Homo sapiens: one gene and its partners. The protein of the gene in region 1 interacts with the protein of each later gene in a pairwise test. Each region holds a gene or a part of one and is shown in the gene's direction. Other genes may lie near its edges.

Region 1 (7,104 bases):
GCACCCAACCTGTCTTTGGTTCTTGACCGTTATTTTGTGTCTAGGTATTGGTCTCTTTGGGTTTATTCTACCTAGAATTAATTGAGCTTCTTGAATATGTACGTTAACATTTTTCACAAATTTGGGAAGCTTTTGGCCATGATTTATTCAAATATTTTTTCTGCCCTTTCTCTTCTTCTTTTAGGACTCTAATTATGCATATGTTGATATGCTTGATGGTGTCCCACAGATCTCTAAGGCCATATTCATTATTATTTTTTCTTCTTGTTTCTTGTACAGGATAATCTCAATCAAACTGCCTTCAAATTAACTGATTCTTTCATCTGCCTGCTCAATCTGCTGTTGAGCCTCTAGTAAAATTTTCATTTCAGTCATTGCACCTTTCAACTTCAGAATTTGTTTGCTCTTTTAAAAATAGTATTTATCTGGCTACTGATATTGTCTTTGCTGAGATGGCATTCTTTTGCTTTTTTTAGTTATTTGAAAATACTTAAAATAGCTGACATAAAGTCTTTGTTAGTCAGTCTAATTTATAGACCTTCTCAGAAATAGTTATTTTTGATAGTTTTTTTATCCCTTTGTATGGGCATACATTTTTGTTCCTTTGCATATCTCATAACTTTTTTTTGTTGAAAGTTAGTAGTTTTAAATAATGTCAACTCTTAAATCAGATTCTACCTCCTCCCAAGAGTTTGTTGTCATTGCTGTTTGTTGTTGTTATTATTCTGAACTGATTGTGTACAATTTGCATTCTTTGTTGTATGTGACCACTAAAATTTTTGCTCAATTAGATTAGTTATCAACTAATGATTGGACAATGATTTCTTTAAATGCCTATAACTAGTATGCCTTCCAGACTTTAATGATGGGCTCTGTGTATGTGTTGAGGTATGCCTTTAACACTCAGCCAGGCAGTTGACAACTGCCTTACCATTTGCTTTCCATTTTGAGCCTCAAGGTTAGCCAGAGGTGAAAGCTTAGGGCCTTTTCAGGTCTTTCCTAAGCATACCCACAGCCATGAGGTCATGCCCATAGCTGAACATATGCATGTAGCCTTCTAGATTCTTAAGGATATGTGAAACTTTTCAAACCCCTATTGACATCTCATTCCCTAGATTCTCCTTTTAAGCTTTTTAGTTAGCCTATTGTTCACTCTGTTACCTAGGCAGCTGTGATGTTAAACAATTGCCTCTAATTGTTTTCAACAAATGCCCTGGGAGTGGGTACTTTTCACACAGTGGAAGTTCTGAGTCTTATCAAATAAAGACAGCCTTGCAGGTGAGGTCTTTGGGAGAACCACCAGACAGTTTAAATAATTACTGTTCTCTGAAACTGAGACTTTGAAAGAGTTCTGTTCTGCTCTGTCTCCTCTGGTGGCTGCTAGTCTGCTAGTTTTCACTGAGATTTTGGGATATTGTTTAAGGCTGCTACAAAGCTGGAGATGGGGGAGATGAGAATAGGCCAAATTAAAACATCACAAAACTCTTGCTGTTCTTACCTAGATTCCAGCTCCCCCAGTTGCTGTAAGTCCTTGGTTAATTTCTACAATTCTTAAAAATTGATTCAAAAATTTTAGATGGCTTTCTTGGTGCTCTTATGAAGGAAAGATATTTTGGAGTCCCCCACTCCTCTATTTTTGCAGATGTCACTTTCTTTTATTTGTTTATATTCTTATTTATAGATTATTCTAATGTTACTGGTAATTAAATACACTGTATTATCTATATATGCATATATTATAAGGCTAGAGTATAGTTAAGATCATTTTATTTCTTATTACTCTTTTAGGTATTGCCATAAGTAAACCTTTGTTTAGAGTGCAAACTAAGCTACCTTATACTGCACTTATTACATCCACCTACCCAGTCAGCCAGCCATGAAGCAAAGATCCATGAGCATCCACCATGGTCAGGTCTATGTACTATAATTCCAGACATTAGTAGTGAAAAATATTTGAAAAGTGAAGAATTCTTAAATATTTTAAAGAAAAACCAAATATTTAAATTTTTCGGCTCACATATCTCTGAAGAATCTAATGTCACCTTGAGAATAAGGGATTTGAGAGCTAAATGTTTAAGACAGTATGTAAAGTAAAAAAGTAGAAAATGTTCCTAATTAGTATGTCCTAAGAGAAAGATTAGAAAACGGTCAAATATAGGCCCTTGGGTTTATAAGCTCAAAGTGAAACCAGTCTATTAATGAATAAAACATCCTTTCCTGATTAAATATTATAAAACTTATATTTTTTAAAAAATTTACTGATGATATAACCAAGGAAATGAGATTCTAGGTTGAATTCTTTTCTGAAGTCTGAGAAATTCATGTTGATTAAGTTAGTTTTTTCTCTTCTTCTTTCCATAGAAAAGTAAGGAAAATAAATGATGAATTATAAACTAATCCCTCCTCAAACTCCAAATTGACAGCAATAATGTTAATAATAGTCAATTTCATGTCAAGAAGAAAGCTTAATATAATTGAAATGGAAATGAGTATTTAAAATGTAGAAACCTTTTCATATGTTTCAGGCAAATTATTTTATTTTATTATGTATGTTTGTGCTCTTTGTGGGTACCACACTGTTTGTTTTAAATATCATTTTTTTCCTTAAGATAATTAGTGTTCATTTGAACTTACTGAATTAACATTTTTTATATTTAAATGAGATCAATAACATTTTTATTTCTTCTCTCTCTTTTGGCCTCAGTTAACCTTTGTTTAACGTATTATTATTTAATATTGAAAAAAATACCCAACTTTGCCAGGTAAGCAAGGGATTTTGTTGCATAAACAATACGTAGTTTTTCTGCTTACCTGACATAGCCAGACATTTTTTCAATATTAAATAATATATTGAGAGAGAGACTGAGGAGAGAGATGACAACTTGACATAAATGATATAAATGTGCCAGATTCTTGGCTGCACACTCTAATCTATAGGTACATTATTTGAGGTAGAAAGTCAAATGTTCTTCTTGCCTGTGAGAGTGGGAGGATTCTGAATTCATATAATAGCAAGGAGTTCAGTGTCACTGAAGTTATCACTGCAAATGGAAGAGTAGAGAAATAAGGGTTTTTAGGTGTCTAAACAAAGAGTTGGGATTTTTATTGTCTAGGAGATGAAGAACTATTGGTGGATTTTTGAGCAGTGATGGAACATGGTCATTTGCAAGGCAATATCACTCTTGGAACTCTGTGGAGATAAATTTGATCAGGCCAGACCTGCCTTTACAGGTCTTAATCTTATGTCAAATTTTTTTTGGGAAGATGCTCACAGGGTCACTCTGCAAAACTTTTCCAGCCAGATCCCCAATTTAAAGTTATTCCAATGAGAATATAGAGAATAGTCTAGGTCAGTTACATAAACCAGTTTGGACTTTGAAAAATGAAATGTCCTATTTTTATACATTGCTAATAAAAACAACAAGCTTATGACTGCTTCCTAAAAATTCTAGGCGACGTCTGTATTGTTTTAGTTTCTAGTACATTTATATTAACACTTTTTGTTTTAGAATAGTTCAAAGAAAGGGGCACCATTTCATTTTATGTTTTCCACCTGTAAAGTAATAAAGAACTGTCTACATTTCATACAGACTTTCATTTCATCTTTATGCGACTCCCATGAGTAGGTATTATTATCCTCATTTTAAAACTAAAGAAGCTGATTCCCAGGTTAAGCAACTTGGCTTTCATTACAGAAAGAGCTGGAATTTGAACCCAAGTCTCTCCAACATCAAAATCCTTTCTTTCTAATATATCACCCTTCTCCTTGATAGCACTTGTATAGGTGGAATGTTGTTTTTCCTCTGTACACCTTCTTTATAGAACATTTTCTTCATGTTACCTAAAGGCATGGTGCAAATTAAAAACCTGCGAATATCTGCATTAGGATAATTCAGCTTACCTAATTGTTTAGGTCATGTAGCCCCTCGTTTCCTCCATAATAATAGAATAAAGAGCCAGAGGAGTTCTGCTTTCCCATGACTTACATCACTCTGCAGACAATTGGCAGCCAGGAGACGGGCAGCTGCCGCAATCTTCAGATTTCTCTCTATTTAAAGTTCAAAGAGACGCTGGATAACAAAAGAAAGAGGTAAGCGTGGCCTGACCTAGCCACCCACCAACAGGAATAATGGCTGAAAAAGGTAAGATTTAAGGCATAGGATTCTCTTGGCAAAAAAAAAAAAAAGGCTTCTTGACTTTGGTTCATTTATGTTTCTTGGTGTTTCCCAGTCACTCTAAAAAATGTGATATCTATGCTAAATGACCATTAACCATATATGTTAGTGTGGCTGCAAAAATGCATTAATTATGTAATCTATGGATCAGGTCTATAGGTTATGAATAATTTTAAAATGATCAACAAAGGAAAAGAGCTTAATTTTGTTAATACTTATTTTGAAAGGTGAGTTAGAAATCAGTTCTCCTGATTTCAATTCTGAGCCAGAATTGAAGACAGTTAAGTTCTGTGTCAGACCTGCTAGTAAATGGCTATGTGAGTTTGCAGAAGTCCCTATACCTCTCTGAGTCTGTTTTCTGACAGTAAAATGAGAATATTGGGCTCAGGCATCTATTCCACACCTAAAATTTTTGTTCCACATCTAACTTTTTTCTGGTTTTTAAACATTTTTTTGTATTTATATTTTATAGTTATATAAAATAATTGATTCCAATTTGTCAAAAAGTTGAATATATACTGTATCTAAGAAATGGTTTTTAAATATTAAACAGGAATTTTTGCTTTGAATCTTGACAATGACCTTGTGAAATATGCATATCATCATCATCCCCATTTTATAGATAAGAAAATGGAGACACAGCAGTTTAGTAACTTGTTCATGATCGCTAAAGAGTGGTGGCACCAGGTGTTTAACCTGGACAGTCTTTTCCAGAGCACAGTGTCCTCAAGAACACTTCCAGCTGTAACTACTTTGATATGCTCAGAACTGGACAAGAGAGAAGCATTTTAGAATTACACTTCATGTTTAAGAGATGTTTTGTTCTTATTTGTGCTAGTAATGTAAGTGACATATGCAAAGTATGTTGTGCTCTTACGTATTTCTACTTCCAAACAATTCCACAGGTATTAGTAAAGTTGAAAACATTAGTGTTAAAAAAACAATGGAATGTATACTTTGGGTGTTAAAATGCACAGTTAGTGCTACTGGTACTATTTTACAAGGAAAGTAAATAATGAGATACTTTTAGGGCTTTGTGATATGTAAATTTTATTAAAATATGCATGTATAAAATATAAATGCACAATTAAAGGGTTAATATTAATTTTCAAATTCTTTGAAATTGGGAAAAATATAAAGCCACATACCTAGACAGTTCAAAAAAATTACTGCTATGTACTTCCATTGTAATGGTACCTTAATTCATAAAAAGGCTTTCGTCCAAATGAGAGTAAAGGGCAACTCATGTTGTTTGCTTTATCCTTAAGCAATACCACATGTCAAGTAAAGAGAAGAGTTTTCCATTTAGTGCTTAATGCCTTATACAAGGTCACAGTGAGATGGAGAAACAAGAAAAGCATGTTGAATTTTGTCAGTTAAGAGAGACTCTAGCATTCTTGGAAAAATTGATTTAAAGTATTAAAATTTATTTCAACTTCAGAAAGTTTGCTTTTATAAAAGTGTCTTCTAATTTTAAATGTGTCTCATCTCCTGATGATTTTATTTTAATAGCATTTTTAAAAATTTCACATTTTAAAGTGATGGAAATTGTAATAGGAGTATAATTGCTAAGAATATGCATTCTCTCTTTTAACTAATGGCATAAGATCTAATTATGCTTTGCAGTTAAGAATATATCTGAGTCCTTAACACAGGGACATTAATTCCATAGAATGTTTTTCTGCGCTCTTTCTAAATCTTTTTGTGTGATGTAGGTGTGGATTTCTGTGTGTATGCCTGTGTATGTTTGCTTGAAAGAACAAGAGTTACATGCAGTGCATACTTTAAAAAAGATACTTGTATAAATTGCTTTTTACAGGTAAGAGTACAAATAGGAGGCACAGAAGGAATCATATATAACAAACGCCATTTATGTGTGTGTTGGATTATTACTGCCCATTGATTCAGGTTCAGTGCTGGTTGTTATACTGAACAATTTTTAAACAATAGAAATTCTTTTCTGTAGTCAAGAATGGTTACATAATGTATGATACTTTCCTTTTCCCTGTGATATTTAAAATTACATTCAGCTATTGAGGCCAAGGACAGTTCTCAATACCTTTCCTTGTGTTATAATTATTTACTTTAGTGGGAATTGCCTCAGAGTTGTATTAGATTGTTTTTTATATAAATAGCTGCTGTATATGTTATTGCACAAATGCATGAATGTGTTCTGTATACACTAAACACACACGGTGGTTAGAGTTTACAAAGCTTTGCACATATGTTATGTCATTTGATGTTCAAAACTATTCCAGGAGGTAGAGAGCACAAGTTTCATTATTCATATTTTACCAGTAGGAAAGTTCAAGCCCAGAATTGCCAAAGGTCACATAACAGTAAAAGACCCATGGTTTGATTCAAAATACCCAGGGTTTATGACAGTCTCACGTATTCTCTGTAGAAAAGAAAAAATAATTATGTATGGGTATAACTAGAGAGTGTATGCTTTTTTCTTAATGTTACCAAATTCCTTTTATTCTCTTGACACAGAAAATTTAATATGAAAATGACCAATATAATCTGTTTTCTACGGTTTATTTTAAAGCGGGGTCTACATTTTCACACCTTCTGGTTCCTATTCTTCTCCTGATTGGCTGGATTGTGGGCTGCATCATAATGATTTATGTTGTCTTCTCTTAGAAAGGTAAGGGTTTTAATAATTGAATGTTTATTTATAGTCTAAATTACTCCAGAAACAATCTTTTCTATTTTACTAATGGAATGTTTTGTCTTTCAGGCAAGAAGATATCAGATTGACATCATTTAGAAGAATTAAGAAAACTATGAACATGACTGATTATTAAATGTCTCATGTTAAACAATGCAATGTTTGACATCACTTTACAAACTTGGATCATAAACTGGCACTTTGGTATGCATAAGAATTTCTTCAGGACAATAAGAAATTATGAGTGAATTTCTCTAT
Region 2 (3,275 bases), on another chromosome or scaffold:
AATGAATCATAGGTGAAGGAGTAAGGAGTTGAGGGAGACAGAGTTAGTGGAACTACTGAAACAACCTGTCCAATTAATTTGGACCTCCAGAATAGGCTCTGAGAAGAAGCCACAACTATCTTCCAACTAGACCGAATCCCTGAGGTCTTGTCTCCTCATGTTATCTGCTCCTGAAGGGGTTTGGAAATCTCCAGGGTTTTTCAGGTTTGTGGAGAAAGACTAGGACAACCACTGACCAGCAACTGCCCTGGCACTTGGTAGGGCTATGATGGATTTACTGAATGTTGAAGCAGAAAGTGAAATGCAAACCAATTTTAGTATTGCATGCCCTATGTTAATCTCTGGTCAGCACTGAGTGTTCAAAGACAGTAGGACGTCGGTTGCTGACCTGCCTCTTAGAAGCTAGTTTAACTCAGCGGGTAAGGATCTAGGACTTCTACATTAGTTACCACTGTAATGATAACACCACCAGAAAAGTCTGTAGTTTAATATTTCCCACCTTATGCCTGTTTCTTCATTCACGCAAAGAAAATAAAAATATAATACCTAAGCCTCTTTGTATTACATAAAGCAAAATGCAAAGCACTGTATCTTCCAAATACTTCCTCTTGATATGGTGGAATTATAGAGTAGTATCATTTGTAACTGAAATGTCTTCTAGGGTTGCTATGCGAAAGCAAGACTGTGGTTTCATTCCAATTTCCTGTATATCGGAATCATCACCATCTGTGTATGTGTGATTGAGGTAAGAGCTTAACCACAGGGTTATTGTGAGGATTACATGAGTTAAGTCAGGTAAGATTTCAGAATAATACCAGGTACACAGTATTTACACAATAAATGTTAGCTATTTTTACTAATATATGAATTCCCCCAGCCAAGTAGCAAATAATGTAATTAACAATTTGCTTTAAGGTATATAGAAAATGTGCTATAAGAACATCTCTTGGCCGGGCGTGGTGGCTCACGCCTGTAATCCCAGCACTTTGGGAGGCTGAGGCAGGCAGATCACGAGGTCAGGAGATCAAGACCATCCTGGCTAACATGGTGAAACCCCGTCTCTACTAAAAATACAAAAAATTAACCAGACGTAGTGGCAGGTGCCTGTAGTCCCAGCTACTTGGGAGGCTAAGGTAGGAGAATGGCGTGAACCTGGGAGGCGGAGCTTGTAGTGAGTCAAGATCGTGCCACTGCACTCCTGCCTGGGCGACAGAGCGAGACTCTGTCTCCAGAAAAAAAAAAAAAAAAAGAACATCTCTCTGGTCAATTCATTCCTCAGAGATATGAGTGATTCACATGATTCACAGTCAAACAAAAAAGCCACCAAGCAGAATCCCACTGTGATCCCTCCTCAGCTGGTCTGAAAAATACGAATTGATAAAGTATTTCATTTGAAAACCTGATCTTGCATGTTAAGGGGCTGATGACGAAAATTGTAATCAATTTCCTCTTTGTTTCTGTGCTTAGTTTGACAAGTGATGGGTGAATTGAGGGTAGTTTTTTGTCCTTTTTAATAAAAAAGGACAAAAATAATGTGATATTTCTAACATTTTTCTACCCAAAGTGTTGGGTATATCATAGATTAGTTAAAACTCAATCAGGAAGCTCAGAGAAAATGATTTTTCTCTGTTTGGAAACAAAGGAGGCACAGAGCATGGATAGAGATAACTCATTGCACAGTGTTCAGTGAGCAGAATATGACCATCCTAGCAGCAAGGCTTCTGTGACTTCCTCAGAAGATAAAACATGCTCCAGTACTTTACAGCCTGTTATCTTGTCATCATTGACCCCGTTTCTCTCCTCACTGCTATTCTTTAACCAAAGGAAAGAGCTCCTGAGAGAGACTTGAAAGTAATGGTTGGAAGGGTGGTTTCAGTGTAATGGATACATTCTTTTTCTCAGAGGCCAATCCCAGGCATTGTGAAAGAAATGGCTTTTCTTATGAAGACTTCAAATTTTCCCAACTCTTTTCACAGGTGTTGGGGATGTCCTTTGCACTGACCCTGAACTGCCAGATTGACAAAACCAGCCAGACCATAGGGCTATGATCTGCAGTAGTCCTGTGGTGAAGAGACTTGTTTCATCTCCGGAAATGCAAAACCATTTATAGCATGAAGCCCTACATGATCACTGCAGGATGATCCTCCTCCCATCCTTTCCCTTTTTAGGTCCCTGTCTTATACAACCAGAGAAGTGGGTGTTGGCCAGGCACATCCCATCTCAGGCAGCAAGACAATCTTTCACTCACTGACGGCAGCAGCCATGTCTCTCAAAGTGGTGAAACTAATATCTGAGCATCTTTTAGACAAGAGAGGCAAAGACAAACTGGATTTAATGGCCCAACATCAAAGGGTGAACCCAGGATATGAATTTTTGCATCTTCCCATTGTCGAATTAGTCTCCAGCCTCTAAATAATGCCCAGTCTTCTCCCCAAAGTCAAGCAAGAGACTAGTTGAAGGGAGTTCTGGGGCCAGGCTCACTGGACCATTGTCACAACCCTCTGTTTCTCTTTGACTAAGTGCCCTGGCTACAGGAATTACACAGTTCTCTTTCTCCAAAGGGCAAGATCTCATTTCAATTTCTTTATTAGAGGGCCTTATTGATGTGTTCTAAGTCTTTCCAGAAAAAAACTATCCAGTGATTTATATCCTGATTTCAACCAGTCACTTAGCTGATAATCACAGTAAGAAGACTTCTGGTATTATCTCTCTATCAGATAAGATTTTGTTAATGTACTATTTTACTCTTCAATAAATAAAAGTTTATTATCTCAATCACAACATTGCTATATATCAAACACTCCTTCCATGACCCAGCCTGATTACCCTGATTAATGCACCAAACCAGGTGTATTAATTGTCTCCTGCTGCATAAAATATTACTCCAAAATTTAGTGGCTGAGGACAACAAACATTTATTATCTCATGGTTTTTGTGGGTCAGGAATCTAGGAGCAGCTTAGCTGGGTGATTCTGGTTCACAGTCTCTCATGTAACTGCAATCAACATGTCAGCCTGGGCTGCAGTAACCTTAAGGCTCAACTGAAAGAGGATCTACTTTCAGGCTCTCTCACATCGCTGTTGGCAAGCCTCAGATCTTTGCCACTTGTGCCTTTCCACGGGGCTTCCTTATGACATGGAAGCTGGCTTCCCCCCATTTAAAGACATCCAAGAAAGGGCATGAGATTCGGCACCCAAAACAGAAGCCACAGTTTGTTGTTTTTGTTGTTGTTGTTTTGAGATGGAGACTTGCTTTGTCACATAGGCTGGAGTGCA
Region 3 (6,897 bases), on another chromosome or scaffold:
GATATTTGCATGGGATACTGAGTGATTGTTCCAGACTCTGCATGCCTCTGAACTCCCAAGTTCATTGAAGTGAAGTTGGTAACTTAAAATCAGACATGGTGGAAGTATTTACTTTATGGAAATTGGAATCCCCCACACCAGCTAGTTTTTAAATATTTACCAGTATATCAGTGGATAGCTGAGTAAGTGACTTCTGGAATGTGGCTTTCTGGTAAGATGTTGGCTGACAACCTTACCCTCATGACTACCTCTGTACCAGTGATGCTTAATTCTGGTTGCACTTTAGAAATTACCTGGGGGAGTCCAGACACAATGGCTCATGTCTGTAATCCTAGCACTTAGGGAGGCGGAGGTGGGCTGATGATTTGAGGTCAGGAGTTCAAGACCAGCCTGACCAACATGGTGAAACTTGTCTCTACTAAAATACAAAAATTAGCTGGGTGTGGTGGCGGGGGCCTGTAATGTCAGCTACTTGGTAGGCTGAGGCAGGAGAATCACTTGAACCTGTATAGCGGAGGTTGCAGTGAGTCAAGATCACGCCACTGCACTCCAGCCTGGGTGACAGAGCAAGACTGCCTCTCAAAAAAATAAAAATAAACATAAAAATGAGAAATTACCTGGGGAGTTTAAAAATAATACTGATTACCACGTTCCTGTTGGTGGGGATTTTGACTTGACTGCAGTGGGGCTTGAATATCAGGATACATTTAAAGCTTACCAGGTGCTTTTAGTCTGCAGCTAGGGTTGCATTCACACCTGTGTGTCACACTATGCCACACATTCTAACAGTCCTACAAAAAAGTAATGGCAAAACCAGGATTTGCACCAGGCCTGCTGGCCCCTAGGCCAGAGTTCCTGGCTAAAGGAGGAAAAGTGGGAAACAGATGGCCATTTCTTCTGAGGTCTCAGTGTTTGCAAATGTGGTTCAGGAGGAGCCCTAGTGCTTGGGGTCAGGGTCAGGATTGCAGGTGGGGAGGCACAGTGAAGAAGCCCAGCAGCCAGGGAAAGGCTGTGCCAGCCCCAAAGAGCTCCAAGGCTCTTTGTAGGGATGGCTCACCTCGAGGGCTTAGGGAGAGCTGAGAGGGCTTGCTAAGAAGCTTGTGTGTCACCAGGGAATATTTGAAAGATGAGAGAAAATGCAGCTGGCTGGAGAGGCCAGAAGGGAAGAATAGAAGTCCAGGGGCAACTGGGAAGGAAACCTGATGGAGGTGTGTGGCAGTTTCGACTGTAGTTTAAATATGGAGAATGAAAGGGAACTAGGAGGCTAAACTAGCCTTCCAGGGTATGAAGAGGGTTCCAAGCTTCTATGGGTGGGGAAGAGACTAGCACCTCAAATAATGGGTGTGGACTTAGCTCTGCAGGGCTGGGTGGAGGCTCTAGCCCTCAAAGAGGAATAAAAAGTTAGTCTTCCTCCTCAAAGGACAGAAAGGACAACTTTTTTTTTTTTTGGGGACCGAGTCTCGCTCTGTCATCCAGGCTGGAGTGCAGTGGCACGATCTTGACTCATTGCAACCTCTGCTATCCAGGTTCAAGTGATTCTCCTGCCTCAGCCTCCCGAGTAGCTGGGATTACAGGCACCCATCACCATGCCCGGCTAATTTTTGTATTTTTAGTAGAGCCAGGGTTTCACCATGTTGGCCAGGCTGATCTTGAGCTCCTGACCTCGAGTGATCCCCCTGCCTTGGCCTCCCAAAGTGTTGGGATTACAGGTGTGAGCCACCGCGCCCGGCCAGAATGGACAACTTTTAACACTATGGTAAGATGCCTTCTTGGCCCTCAGATAATCATTTGAGGGCAGCTTGCATTACTCTCTGGTTCTCTTTCCACCTTTTCTTTTCCCTGTTGTTTTTTTTTTGAGACAGGGTCTTGCTTTGTTGTCCAGGCTGGAGTGCCGTAGCACAATCATAGCTCACTGCAGCCTTGATCTTTTGGGCTCGAGAAGTGATACCCCCACCTCACCCTCCCAAGTAGCTGGGACTACAGGCACGAGACACCATGCTTGGCTAATTTTTTTGATTTTCAGTGGAGATGAGGTCTTGCTACGTTGCCCAGACTGGTCTGAAACTCCTGGACTCAAGCAAACCTCTCACCTTGGCCTCCCAAAGTGCAGGGATTACAGGCATGAGCCACTGTGCCTGGCTCTGGTTCTATTTCTCTACCCCACACAAACATCCTCCCAAGGTTTGTTTGTTTTGTACCAGGAAATTGGTTTCCTTTTACCCTTCCAGGCATGGCACTGCCTCCCTCCCCACCCCCCAATCTTGCTTTCTTCCTCCTAGGGCAGAGCTCTGGGGGCTAAAGCCAGCCTGGACTAAGTCTCTGAGTCTGTCCTTCTCTGTTGAGTTTGTGTATGCAGGAGCCCTGGGAACCCAGGACTGGGGACTTGTATAAGAGTGTCGTTCCTGAAATCACCACCAGGGACCCCACCCAGCACTGCTAGAGCTTATGACCTCTGCCATGGATTTAATTACTGAAGGCCACAGCAGGGATTGTCTGGCTCCCAAGTCCCAGGCTGAGCTAGGCTTGGGAGACAGGAAACAACAGTGAGTAAAGCTGGGACCATCTAGCATGAGAGACAGGCTCACAGCCACCTCTGGTCCCAGGCTGAGAAAAGGCCAGGTGGGAGGAGGCTGGGTTAGTGGCTGGCTATGTGCAAGAGAGGGAGCTGCCTCCCTCACCTATAGTTTCTGTTTGTTTGTTTTTTGTTTTTTTGAGATGGAGTCTCCCTTTGTCACCCAGGCTGGAGTGCAGTGGCGGGATCTCGGTTCACTGTAACTTCCGCCTCCCGGGTTCAAGCGATTCTCCTGCTTCAGCCTCCCCAGTAGCTGGGACTACAGGCATGCACCACCCTGCCCGGCTAATTTTTTTTGTATTTCTTAGTAGAGACAGGGTTTCACCACGTTGTCCAGGCTAGTCTCGAACTCCTGACCTCAAGTGATCCGCACGCCTTGGCCTCCCAAAGTGTTGGTATTACAGGCGTGAGCCACCGTGCCCGGCCTTGTTTTTGTTTTTGTTTTGGAGAGAGGGTCTCACTCTGTCTCCCAGGCTGGAGTGCACTGGCACAATCACGGCTCACTGCAGCCTTGACTTCCCTGACTCAAGCGATTCTCCCGCCTGTCTCCCAAGTAGCTGGGACAACAGGCGCGCCACCGTGCCTGGCTTTTTATTTTTTTTAATTATAGAGTCGGCGTTTTGCCATGTTGCCCAGGCTGGTCTTGAACTCCTGGGGCTCAAGCCATTCGCCCTCCTCAGCCTCCCAAAGTGCTGGGATTACAGGCGTGAGTCACCGCGCCAGGCCTTCAACCTAGTTTGAAGATGGGGTTTCCCGGGAGGAACCCTTCCCAAGGCTGGGTTATCACCTGGCAAAAGAAGGGGACTTCCGAGGTCGTTTGGTGAAGGCCTTCAGCAGATCTGTTTCACGAGCAAACTTCAGACTCCAGCTCCATGGGGGCCTATTAGCCCCACCCTGGTCTGCCTCCCTGAGCCTTCCTGAGCCGAGCAACTCCACTTCCTTATTCCATTCACGTTTAGCACACTCATTTGCACTTTCAACACCTGGGCGATTAATTCTTGCCCTTTTCCCAAAGTTTTCCCTCTTGACAAGAGGAAAGCTTGCATTTCTATGTACCCCGATTAGGCACGCTCGCTCTCTCCTTAGAGCACCTCTGGTTCACCTCTCCCACGCCCCCTGCATTAGCACAGGCGTTTCCAGAGTTGCACGCGAGCTCATTTGCAAGACCGTCTCCCCCTCCCATCCCTTCTTGGTCCCCTCTAGGGCCCAGGGCAGCAGCCCCGCCCCTGGCCCGCCCCCTCCCAGACGCTAGGCAGCCGCGGCCTCCCATTGGCCGCCAGGGCTGGCAGGCTTCCCGGCTGGGGCTGTGATTGCCGCGCTCCAGTGTCAGTCCCGGAGAGAACGCCGGTGGCGGGGCTGGTAGCCCGGCAGCCGCAGGTGGGGCCACGAGCGCTGGCTGAGGGACCGAGCCGGAGAGCCCCGGAGCCCCCGTAACCCGCGCGGGGAGCGCCCAGGATGCCGCGCGGGGACTCGGAGCAGGTGCGCTACTGCGCGCGCTTCTCCTACCTCTGGCTCAAGTTTTCACTTATCATCTATTCCACCGTGTTCTGGGTGAGTGACCCCAGTAGGGCCCGGGGATGGGGGTGGGGACCCACAATCCGGCCGCCCCCTCACTGGCCCGGGGTTGGGTCCACACTTAGCCGCTCCAGGGAGTGCGCGGGTGAGCGCGCGCGGACTCCTTGTCTTTCTACCTCACATTCGGGCGGCCAGAGCTCAGCCTGAATTTTCAGCCGCCCTTTCGGGAGTGTGAGAGCCGGTTGTCGACCGACCGAGTGCCACCTGGCTCACCTGTGTGCACCGGCTGGGCGGTTTGCCCGCTGTGCGTCCGCTGGCCGGCTGGCTAGGCTGAGGTGAACGCGCTGGCCGCGCCCACCACGCCTACCCGGTAGGACTGACTGCCTCTGCATCGGCCTGTGGAGCTTAAGTAGTTAGGATTTGCAGTCGGGGTTGGGAGACCTGGATTCCGGGTCTGGTCCCTGCTAGTTACTTGCTGATGCCCCTGAGCGAGACGCTTCCCCGCTCCGTCTTGGTTTCCTCTTTGGTGGATGCACGTGCCTCCTGCGTGGCGAGGAGAAGTCCACCAGACGACGTCTCCTGCACACCTAGGTGCTCAGTTTCCGCTGTCGCTGGGCTTTACCTCCTCCTCTGCCTTGTTAGGGGGCAGGATGGTAGTGTTTAGACATGAACCAAGCTTTGAATTCCGTCGCTCCGAGTGGTCTTTTATTTTATATTTTATTTTTTATTTAAAACATTGCTAATCTCTGTATCGTTCCAATTTCAGTTTGTGCGTTTCTGAAATGAGCACTTGCTGAGTGATCTTGGGGAAGTTACTTCATTCCTCTCGGCCATGGTTTCCTCATCTGTAAATGGACACAGTAATTATATTCAACTTGTAGGATGCTCGCGGAGATTACGTGAAATAGGCCGGGTATGGTGCCTAGTGAAGAGCTCAAGAAGTGTGAGACATTATTACTATCGTGGGCAGGGAATTTGGACACCTGTGGTGTAAGCTGCCCCAAGAGATTGGGTTTCTGTAAGGGCGTTTCATATTAGGCTGGGCCCTATTCTAGAGATGAGGATATCTTCCTATAGGCCAGCTCCGCCCCTGTCACTCCAGAATCGCTCTCTGCCTGCAGTATGCCACAAGAGCAGACTTGCCCAGGGACCCAGGGTGGTCACTGACACCCCATTCCCACCAAATACACACACTCTCCCCTGGTGTCCTCCTTAGCCCCTTGCTGGGTCTCTTCTGCTAGCAGGAGCTGCTGGATTTGCCATCAGGACTGGCTTTCCCTGTGACCCCTTTGTGGGTGGGGCCTTGCCTGGTAATCGGAGATCCAGATTCAGCTCTGTTACTGACTTATGGATATCTTAGGCAAGTCACTTTCCTGTTTTGGGCCTCAGAACTGTTCATTGACTTTTCCATCTAGAAGACTAGTCTGAGGCCAGTTTCCAATCCAATTCTCTGACTCTAGGTAATGTGGAGGAGAGATGAACAGTATGTTTGGGGGGCGGAGGATGGAGCAAGGACCTGTTGGTGGAAGCTCTAGGGAGACAGAAGGTCATATGTGGGATGGGAGTGGGGGTGATTTGAGCTATAAATCAGCGGTTGCATCAGATTCTTGTGCCCTGGCATAGGTATTTATTTAAATTTACATAAGCTTAATTGTAGTAAATTACTTACTAGAATTAAGGTAATTCTAGTGTGCAGTCAGTATTGAAAACTGCTGCCCTAGATGGTCTCATAGGTCCCCTAAGTCCCCAGGATTTCTGTGCCTGCCCCTTGTGTGTTCTGTGAGCCCTTCTCTCTGTAAATCAGAGTTGAAAGAGCCTAAGGTTGATGGGTGGGGAGGTAGGAAGATGGAGTTGTATTTTGGGCTTCACCCCTTCCCCAGATATATAATCACAAACCAGTCTCTCTACCTCCTCACGTTTCCATTTTCTCATCTATAAAATGAATAAGTGAATCTCTGCCCTGTACCTCACTGAATTGTTTTAGGATTAGTGATATGGGGAAAGAGTGACATATGAGCAAAATCAGTGCAGTACAAACATACCTCATGCAGTTAAATAAAACTGAACTCTAATTTTTAAGGCTTTGTTCTGTCACTGTCCTTTGCAGCCCCCAGAGAAGCCCACCCAATGGCCCTTGCCTTGCTTCTCTTGGGCAGGGTGGTTCTCAGAACTTGGAATCCCTCCTCTGCCAACTGAGGTTGCCTTACCAAATCCTTAACTCCCATCCCTGGAAGTATTTCTGTTTAAAAGTCTCTACACCCATGCCAAGAACTCAGCCACCTGCCAACTCTGCCAGAGCAGCTCCAGGTGCCAGAGTTTGACTGCAGGGCAGGGCCCAGTGTGAGTAAGTAATCTGTCCTGGACCAGGTTTACTGTTATTTGGAAACCATTTACAGGAAAGCCTATTATCTCTGGTGCCATCTCTGGTGCCATCTCTGGGGTTGAGGGAAGGGTTACTTGCTTTGTAAGTCCAAACTGCTAGCAATTTGCATCTCAGTTTTTAGGTCTGGAGGGCCATAAGTTTTATGACAGCCTTGTACCTTCTGTAAGACTTTTTGCTTACTTTAAAAATTACTACTGGGGCCGGGCCCGGTGGCTCATGCTTGTAATCCCAGCATTTTGGGAGACTGAGGCGGGAGGATCACCCGAGGTCTGGAGTTTGAGACCAGCCTGGCTAACATGGTGAAACCTCATCTCTACTAAAAATACAAAAATTAGCCAGGCGTGGTGGTGTGTGCCTGTAATCCCAGCTACTCGGGAGGCTGAAGCATGAGAATTGTTTGAACCCAGGAGGTGGAGGTTGCAGTGAG
Region 4 (8,047 bases), on another chromosome or scaffold:
CACAAATTAATCTATTGCTGTTCAACTGACTGTAAAATTAGTAGATTTACTGTTGCAAAAAAAAAAAAAAAGAAAAACTAAGAGCTTTCACTTTCACTTTGGTAAGGTCATGGATGTGTCCTAGGCTGCTAACAAAGCAGGCTTTAAAAATCTTTGCAGCAGAACCTAGCAACTTGCAAGGTGAAAAAGCAGCAAAACAATGACTCCAATGTACAGTTGAAAGTCTACTTCCCTATACAGTAAACATCTGAAATTCCACATTTGAGGAACTTTCAAAAATGGAATAATTTGCCTTTAATTCCATTTGCCTCAAAGATGGGAAACTGTGAGAGCACAAATTTATTTTATCACAAACATTCTATTTGCTGTCAGTCCTCCCCTCCTTAAACAGCCTTGTAACTACGTCTCACATAGGTGTTTAAAAATAGTATAGGGTTGCATTCTTTTTTTTTTTTGTTTTGAGATGGAGTCTCCCTCTGTCATCCAGGCTGGAGTGCAGTGGCGCAATCTTGGCTCACTGCAACCTCCGCCTCCCTGGTTCAAGGGATTCTCCTGCCTCCGCCTCTCAAGTAGCTGGGACTACAGGCACACACCACCATGCCCAGCTAATCTTTTTTCTTTTTTTTTTTTTTTTTTGTATTTTTAGTAGAGATGGGGTTTCGTCATGTTGGCCACGCTGGTCTTGAACTCCTGACCTCATGATCTGCTTGCCTCGGTCTCCCAAAGTCCTGGGGTTACAGGCATGAGACACTGTGCCCGGCTGGGTTGCATTCTAAATGTAAAATGCTAACTAATCATTTGGTACTGTTTTGCTTTATCTACACAACAGTCAGCATGGTACACTTTGTACTAGCTCTTTGTTGTTCTGCATGATGTCCTATGATGGTAATAGAAATTATTTTCATTGTTTCAAAACGATCAAAGTTAACTGAATCACCTCAAAACTCAACACCTCTGAAATGGAAAGACATGTCTCTGTTGTGTTCCAAATGAAACTTCTGAACCTATTTTCTGCTTCTGCAGTTGCACAAGAGACTTTTCACAGAAGTGGATCTTCCATATACAAATATTTTTATTTGGCAGATATGAAAGTTTTTAAAACTTTATTACAATATGTCATTCATTTTAGACATTTTGCTGATTCACAACCACCACGTTTTAATAACTGAGGCCATCATATTCTGACAAGAGAAATGATTAATCTGGAGTCTAATGTTATGGGAAATCTCACTCATGGTAAGGAAATTTATTTTGAATCTAGCAAATAGTTTGAGAGCACACAAAGGGTTATAACACAGATGTGGTCACCAGATGTTCTCCAGCTCTACTGCAGAACCAGACTAAGTAGCAACATGATGGATTTAGGTTATGTAAAGGAAAAGACTCCCGTCTTATAAAACATTGAAATGAGAAGCTAAATCTCCTGGCCTCGAGTTTTGTTTTGGCTTGTTTTAAATATAGAGATGTTTTACATGTTTGGAATGGATTAATTATAGTCCTGCCTGAGGAAAATGGTAGAGATTTCATAAGAAGGCTTTCGGCTTTAATAGTTTCTAACAGACAATAATAGACACACAATATTGGGCTGACAGTATCTTCAGGAAGCTTTGAACGAGTTACCTAACACTCAGCCAAAGCCTCTTGCATGCCTTGTTTCTATGACTCTTGACAAGTCTGTAAACATCAACTAAGGAGAGCATGGACCCTTTTGGCTATTAAACTGGCCTTGTAATGACAGAGTTGCTGCTGTTTAAGATAACTGCTCTCAGCTACATTTAGTTGGCACTACATAGGATCTCACACATAATAGACTTAAATTCCCCCAATTTTAGCAAAACTGCCCAGGTAAGAGTTTATAATCTGGAGAGGGAGGAGTATCTAATCTATGAACAATTATTTGTTAAAGAATATGCTGAATATCTGAACCCACATGGGCTTTAAAGTTTGAAGATGCTTCGTATCTTCAAAATAAACCCAAGATTTTGACTGGGCATGGTGGCTCATGCCTGTAATCCCAGCACTTTTTGGGGCCGAGGCAGGTGGATTACCTGAGGTCAGGAGTTCGAGACCAGCCTGGCCAACATGGTGAAATCCCGTCTGTACTAAAAATATAAAAACTAGCCAGGCGTGGTAGTGGGTGCCTATAATCCCAGCTACTTGGGAGGCTGAGGCAGGAGAACTGCTTGAATCCAGGAGGCGGAGGTTGCAGAGCCGACACGGTGCCACTGCACTCCAGCCTCGGCAGCAGAGTGAGACTCCGTCTCAAAAAACAAACAAACAAAACAAAAAAACAACCACCACCAGGATTTTTATTAGTATTAGATTTTTAAATGAATTGTTAGTCATTGTGGCATTATAAAGACGCAGCCCAGTGTTCATAACTTTTTAAAGAAATCACCCACAGACTGATTCTTTTGTGGATCAGATATGTTGTACCTCAATGACCTTGGGCTAAGCAAGTAAATCTCACATACAATCCTGTTTTGGAAGGTCCCCTCGGCGTTGGGGAAAAGTGGGAGGACTTGGAAAGCTAACAGGCAAAGAGAGGGACGGGATATTTCCATTATTCCTTCATCAGAGCAAATCACCAATATATTCATTGAAAGAGAAAGTTCATGGGCATGCTATGGAAATTAACGTAGAAATTACTATGTAATAGAAAATATAGGCATTTTTAGAGTCACCATGATTTGAGTCTTATTGAGTTACATTTTTTGAGGGGGTTAAATTATATGTAGAAACGATAACAATTGGGAAAGCTCTACACATGTCTCAGAGTCCTCTTCTATGTACATAACGGAGTAGTTTATTAAAGATCTGTGGCATAGTAATAGCATTTCCCCAAACCTCTTCATCTTTATTCAAGGATCTTCAAAGTCTGCCCCCACCAAGCACAGCTCAAGGCTCTCAATGACTCTTTAAAAGCTTCCAAGTGGCCGGGCGTGGTGGCTCACACCCGTAATCCTACCACTTTGGGAGGCCGAGTGGGGTGGATCACCTGAGGTCAGGAGTTCGAGATCAGACTGGCCAATATGGTGAAACCCCGTCTCTACTAAAAATACAAAAATTAGCCCGACCCAGTGGCACGCGCCTATAATCCCAGCTACTCGGGAGGCTGAGGCAGGAGAATCGCTTGAACCCGCGAGGTGGAGGTTGCAGTGAGCCGAGATCGCGCCACTGCACTCCAGCCTGGGCGACACAGAGAGACTCCATCTCCAAAAACAAAACAAAACAAAACAAAACAAAAAAACAAAAAACCCCACAAAAGCTGCCAAGCTCCATTTCGGCTGGAGGTCAAAGAAGAGTTCAAGGGAAAAGATGAAAAAAATGGCTTCTCTCCATCTGTGGGCATGTCTGTAATTGCCACCCCATCTCTGCATGTCTCCTCCCAGGAACACTAAAGCACCATCTTCTAGGCGTGGAGACATCTGACAATGGAAGTCTAGAAAGCTTCCTAAACCACCTGCTCTGGACACAGCTGCCTTCAAAGACGGACTGCAAATGGATGCTGGCCGGTAGCTTCAGTTACCAGTGATTACTTGGTGTGAATCTACCTGTGCTATTACCTTAGCAAATTTTAAGTCTTTAGTTTGGGCATTAAATGTTTCAGTTACTTGTACATACTTCACATCCTTTTAATGTTTTCATGGACTCGTACTGTTTACTGTTTCTCTCACTACTTCAGTCTAGCAATGCAAGGAACATTTAAAGTTTGCCTGGGTTTGGGGTTTTTTGGCTTTTTTATTCTTGATTCTGCTACTAGTTGTGCGACCTTGGGCAAATTTGTTTCAGTTCCCTCATCTGTAAAATGGGTAATAATAATAATTGGCTCATAAGGTTGTCCTGAAGATTGAATAACTTGAGATATGTTCAGTGCGTAGAACAGTGTCTGGCACATAGGCAAAAGCAATCACAAATGTGGGCAATTATAATTGCTGAGCACCTAACTTTTCCCAGGTATTGTGCTACTCAGTCTGTCCCCGAATCTACGTCACACAAAATATCTTGGCATTGAGAAATAATTTTGATAGAATAAAATGAATCCTTAATTCTTCTTGATTAACTTGGAAATGGCCAAGATGCACACCTGGACTTTCGGTCTCACACAAGAGTTGTTTCATTACCTCCCTATTTTAACAGTGAGCGTCGAGCTACCAGCAGCTAAAAAGGAAATGGAGATTTCGTCTTTGCTCCCAAAGAACTATTTAAAGCTTTAGTAGTTGTGTCATCTGTAATAAAAGACGTAATGCTGACTCAAGGAGTTAATGAGAAATAAGACAACGCCTTCCAGTGGACAAGTAGCCAATAAATGTTAGTTTTTCTTCGTACCAGGAATCCAAACATTCCAGGTATGAAGCCAGATTAGGTGGCTTCACGACTGTGGACTCGCAGTCTGCCCTTGAGGAATTTCTTATTGAAGAAGAAAAAGAGGGGGGACACGGGGCCCAGACCCCCAGCACCCGGCTTTCGAGCAGGCTCCACGGGTCCGGGTCCGGGTCCGTTTTCCCTTTCGCCAGCTGGGGCCCCGTTCGAACCTCTCCCAACTACAACGCGGAGGCTCCGACGCCCCGGCCCCAGCTTTGTTTTGCCTCCGGGAGCCGCGCGCCACCGGGGACCCGCGGGGAGCCGTTCTCACTCCGAAGCTGTCTGCTCACCTGCAAATCGGAGACAGCGCCCTTTCACTTACGATCCTTATAAAAGACGCTTATAAAACATTTTATTCAGTGTTACATTAAAAAGACGTTTATGAAAGCAATTTATAAAGCCCTAGTGGGAGACCGAGATTGGTGTTAATGTAACTGGAGTAAGGGCTGCTCCGATTGCTGCAGAAATTCGACATTAGCCTTCACCGCACCTGCGGAGCAGCGGGAGCCAGGTGAGCAGCAATTTCCCCTCAGGGACTTCCTCCGCGTTCTCCGCATTTTCTGTCGGCGGAACTGAATCCCAACAGTAGAAAAACGTGGCTCCGCCCATCACCTTTCCTTTAAAGGACGCGGGGTGAAGCCCCGCCCACTACGGAGAGCGAAGGGGACTCGCCGCAGATCCGCTGTACTTGCGTCCGCTACAGTATGTCAATCGCTTGCCCCAGCACAGGTAATGCTAAATATGAGGCGTGCGGAGCGGTGCGCGGACCGGCATCGGGAGGGCGTGGCCTTAGGGGGCGCCCCTGTGGAGGAGGCACCCGGAAGGTCAGGGCTACCCCGTCCCGCCGGTACCGAGGGCGGAGAGGCTCCGCAGGTCCTGCTGCGGAGTCGGAGGGTTCTGCCGGGCTGTAAAGCCATTTTCAGCGAGGCCGCTGCACGAACTTCCGAGGGATGTTAGACCTAGAGTTGCCGCCAGCCCCACTGAGCTTTTCTAGTTCCGTCCCGACATGCGCGCCCTCGTTTGTGCGCACGCACGCACGCAGTACGTCGCTACGTCCCGTCTCTAGCCCTGGCGCTCCGCCGGTCCCGTTCTGCAGGTGGGCGTCGCCGCCGACTTACCAACAACCGGGTCGGGGGCTCCCGGAAGTGCTCTTGCGGCTTACTGCCTGGCACAGGTGGGGCAGAGCGAGCCAGGCGAAGGGCGCCTGCGCAGGACATGCTGGACAAATGCGTTGTTCTTGCTGCCTGCTGTTGCGGGAGGAGGCCTTATGGGGGAAGGTCGCGAAGTGACTGGGATTTTTTTTCTCATTTGTCATTTAGTGGGCTCCGTGGCTTAAGACTTGAACCAAGTAAACGAAGTTCTCTTACTGAGAAGTCTCAGTTTCAAGTACGTGTTGTGAAAGGCCTAAGTCTTAGAAAAGTAGAGGATGGAGAGAAGAATCTGAAAATCGACTACTATTCATTCTGTCAGGCACAACACAGTAACGAATAAGTCCATTTTGTTCCTGCTTCGTAGAGTTTACGGTCTAGTGATGGAGAACAGCAGTGCTAAGATCATCACAAAACTGTAATTGTAATGAATGTTTTAAAGGAAAGGTCAACTGGACTGTAGAAGCATTCAGTGTTAAGCTCAGTAAATTGGGGGAGGGATGGGAGAACTGGCTTAGTTTGGAAGGTAATCAGAAGAATGCGCTAAGGATCTGGCGTTTCCTAAACCAAGGACGAGAGTACTGTATTTCAAAAACCGAATGGCCAGTGTGGCCTAGGCATAAAGAAGAAACTGGAGAGGTGGGAAGGGCCTTTTGGCCTGGCGAAGGTGTAGATCTTTAATCTCGGGGCAGTTTTATTTAAGGTGAGGAAGGTCCTGGGTGTAGTGACCGCAGTGCAGTGGGAACTGGTTGCCAGGGCTCAAGCCGAGTTAGGAGACTGGCAGGAATCCAAACGAGGTGGTCGATGTTTTAAACTGACGGTGGTGACAGTGGATACGGAGAGGACTGGATGGATTCGAGTGGGGTTTAGGAAATGAAGTCGATGAGGCTTGGTGTTGGGTTGACTGGGAAAGTGGAGGCGTCAAAGGTGTCTTGGAGGTGACTGGAGGTTGTGGATGGGTAGTGATCCCATCACTAGAGTTCTGGAAGAAGACTAACATAGGATTAACATAGGAGAATAAGTTAAAAAAAAATTTTTTTTGAGAGTCTCACCCTGTTGCCTAGGCTGGATGCTTAGGCTGGAGTGCGGTGCACGATCTCAGCTCATTGCAACCTCTGCTTCCCGGGTTCAAGTGATTCTCCTGCCTCAGCCTCCCAAGTAGCTGGGAATACAGGCTCACGCCACCAGGCCCGGCTAGTTTTTTTGTATTTTTAGTAGAGATGGGGTTTCACCATGTCGGCCAGGCTGGTCTTGAACTTCTGACCTCAAGTGATCTGCCTTCCTCAGCCTCCCCAAAGTGCTGGGATTACAGGCGTGAGCCACCGTGCCCGGCCGTAAGTCCAGTTTTTAATACAGAGTCTTTAGCTCTGGGTTTAAAAGCTTTTTAAAACATATGGTTATTATTTCAATTTAATAGCTAAAGAAATAAGGTTAAATAGTTGGCCAAAGATATAATGTTGGCTTTTTCCAGTGTTCTAAATGGGAGTTCTAGCACGTAAACAGCTCAGCCTCATTATGGAGAGTACACTTTGTGCTCCCTATGGAAGAGCAAAACCAGAGCCAAGGGAGGGGAGCATGAAGGCCCAGTAACGGTAGCGCAGGCCCTCTGGGATTAAGGCTGCACTGCTCAGGCCAGAATGGGGCAACTGGGACAGTTTGCAGGCAGAAGCAAGGACTTTATGAAACTTCTTTGGAAGGTGTAAAAGAGTTCTTAGAGTCATGAGAATTGGCAAAATTAATTTCACAAATATTTAGTCCGCTAGAATCTATGCAACTTTGATCCAATCTCCCAGGAAAGAACAGATAACAGTATGAGCTTGTGAATATCAGCTGTATGAGAAAAGCAGTGAGTGAACAAATAATAGAAGTTATTTTCGTCTCTTCAGTCCACATGATTTCAAATGCATGCAAGCAATTTTTTATAGGACGAGAATGCCCACCCACCCACCCCTCATATCTACTAAACCACATATTTAAATCATGTTCCAGGAAGTTTCCCTGCAAATATTTTATCAGTACTTCCGGTAGAATGCAAAATAATGAATTATACAGGGAATACAGCTGTCCTTTGGAGCAGTAATAATTGTCTTTTTTTTGGTACAAGAATGTTCACAGCAGCTATTCATAAGAGCCAAAAATAAATAAATAAATAAAGGGAACAGCCTAGGTGTTCATTAACGAAAACTAGATTTAAAAACTGCGATATATTCATATACTTGGAGGACACTTCTTAGAAATAAAAAGGAACAAGGTAATGATCCGTACAACGTGAATGAATCTCGAAACATGCTGAGATGTCTTACAACAAAGAGTAGATATTGTTTGGTTCCATTTATATGAAGTCTTAGGACAGACTGATGGGAAAAAATCAGAACAATAGTTGCCTCTTGGGGATGGAGATTGACTTGGAAATGGCAAGAGGGAACTTCCTGGGATAATGGTGATGTTCTGTCGATAGGAGTTTTGGTTACAAAGGTATATGCACTTGTCAAAACTCAGATAAAGTCTGAGTAATCATCGAATTAAAAATGGAT

What was found.
Region 2: the proteins of STRIT1 (region 1) and CD53 interact in binary tests that used the Homo sapiens proteins (3 or more experiments, as listed by UniProt).
Region 3: the proteins of STRIT1 (region 1) and TSPAN15 interact in binary tests that used the Homo sapiens proteins (3 or more experiments, as listed by UniProt).
Region 4: the proteins of STRIT1 (region 1) and MTIF3 interact in binary tests that used the Homo sapiens proteins (3 or more experiments, as listed by UniProt).

The regions. Positions count from the first base shown.
Region 1 is NC_000003.12:155,290,658-155,297,761, reverse strand, and holds the start of STRIT1 (sarcoplasmic/endoplasmic reticulum calcium ATPase regulator DWORF), read left to right. Parts: upstream 1-4,078; 5' UTR 4,079-4,129; coding exon 4,130-4,142; intron 4,143-6,723; coding exon 6,724-6,818; 3' UTR 6,819-6,822; intron 6,823-6,915; 3' UTR 6,916-7,104.
Region 2 is NC_000001.11:110,897,148-110,900,422, forward strand, and holds the end of CD53 (leukocyte surface antigen CD53), read left to right. Parts: intron 1-661; coding exon 662-745; intron 746-1,976; coding exon 1,977-2,048; 3' UTR 2,049-2,775; downstream 2,776-3,275. UniProt on the Homo sapiens protein: Structural component of specialized membrane microdomains known as tetraspanin-enriched microdomains (TERMs), which act as platforms for receptor clustering and signaling.
Region 3 is NC_000010.11:69,447,568-69,454,464, forward strand, and holds the start of TSPAN15 (tetraspanin-15), read left to right. Parts: upstream 1-3,897; 5' UTR 3,898-4,027; coding exon 4,028-4,123; intron 4,124-6,897. UniProt on the Homo sapiens protein: Part of TspanC8 subgroup, composed of 6 members that interact with the transmembrane metalloprotease ADAM10.
Region 4 is NC_000013.11:27,447,556-27,455,602, reverse strand, and holds the start of MTIF3 (translation initiation factor IF-3, mitochondrial), read left to right. Parts: upstream 1-5,038; 5' UTR 5,039-5,094; exon of another isoform or gene 5,095-5,751; intron 5,752-8,047. UniProt on the Homo sapiens protein: IF-3 binds to the 28S ribosomal subunit and shifts the equilibrium between 55S ribosomes and their 39S and 28S subunits in favor of the free subunits, thus enhancing the availability of 28S subunits on which protein synthesis initiation begins.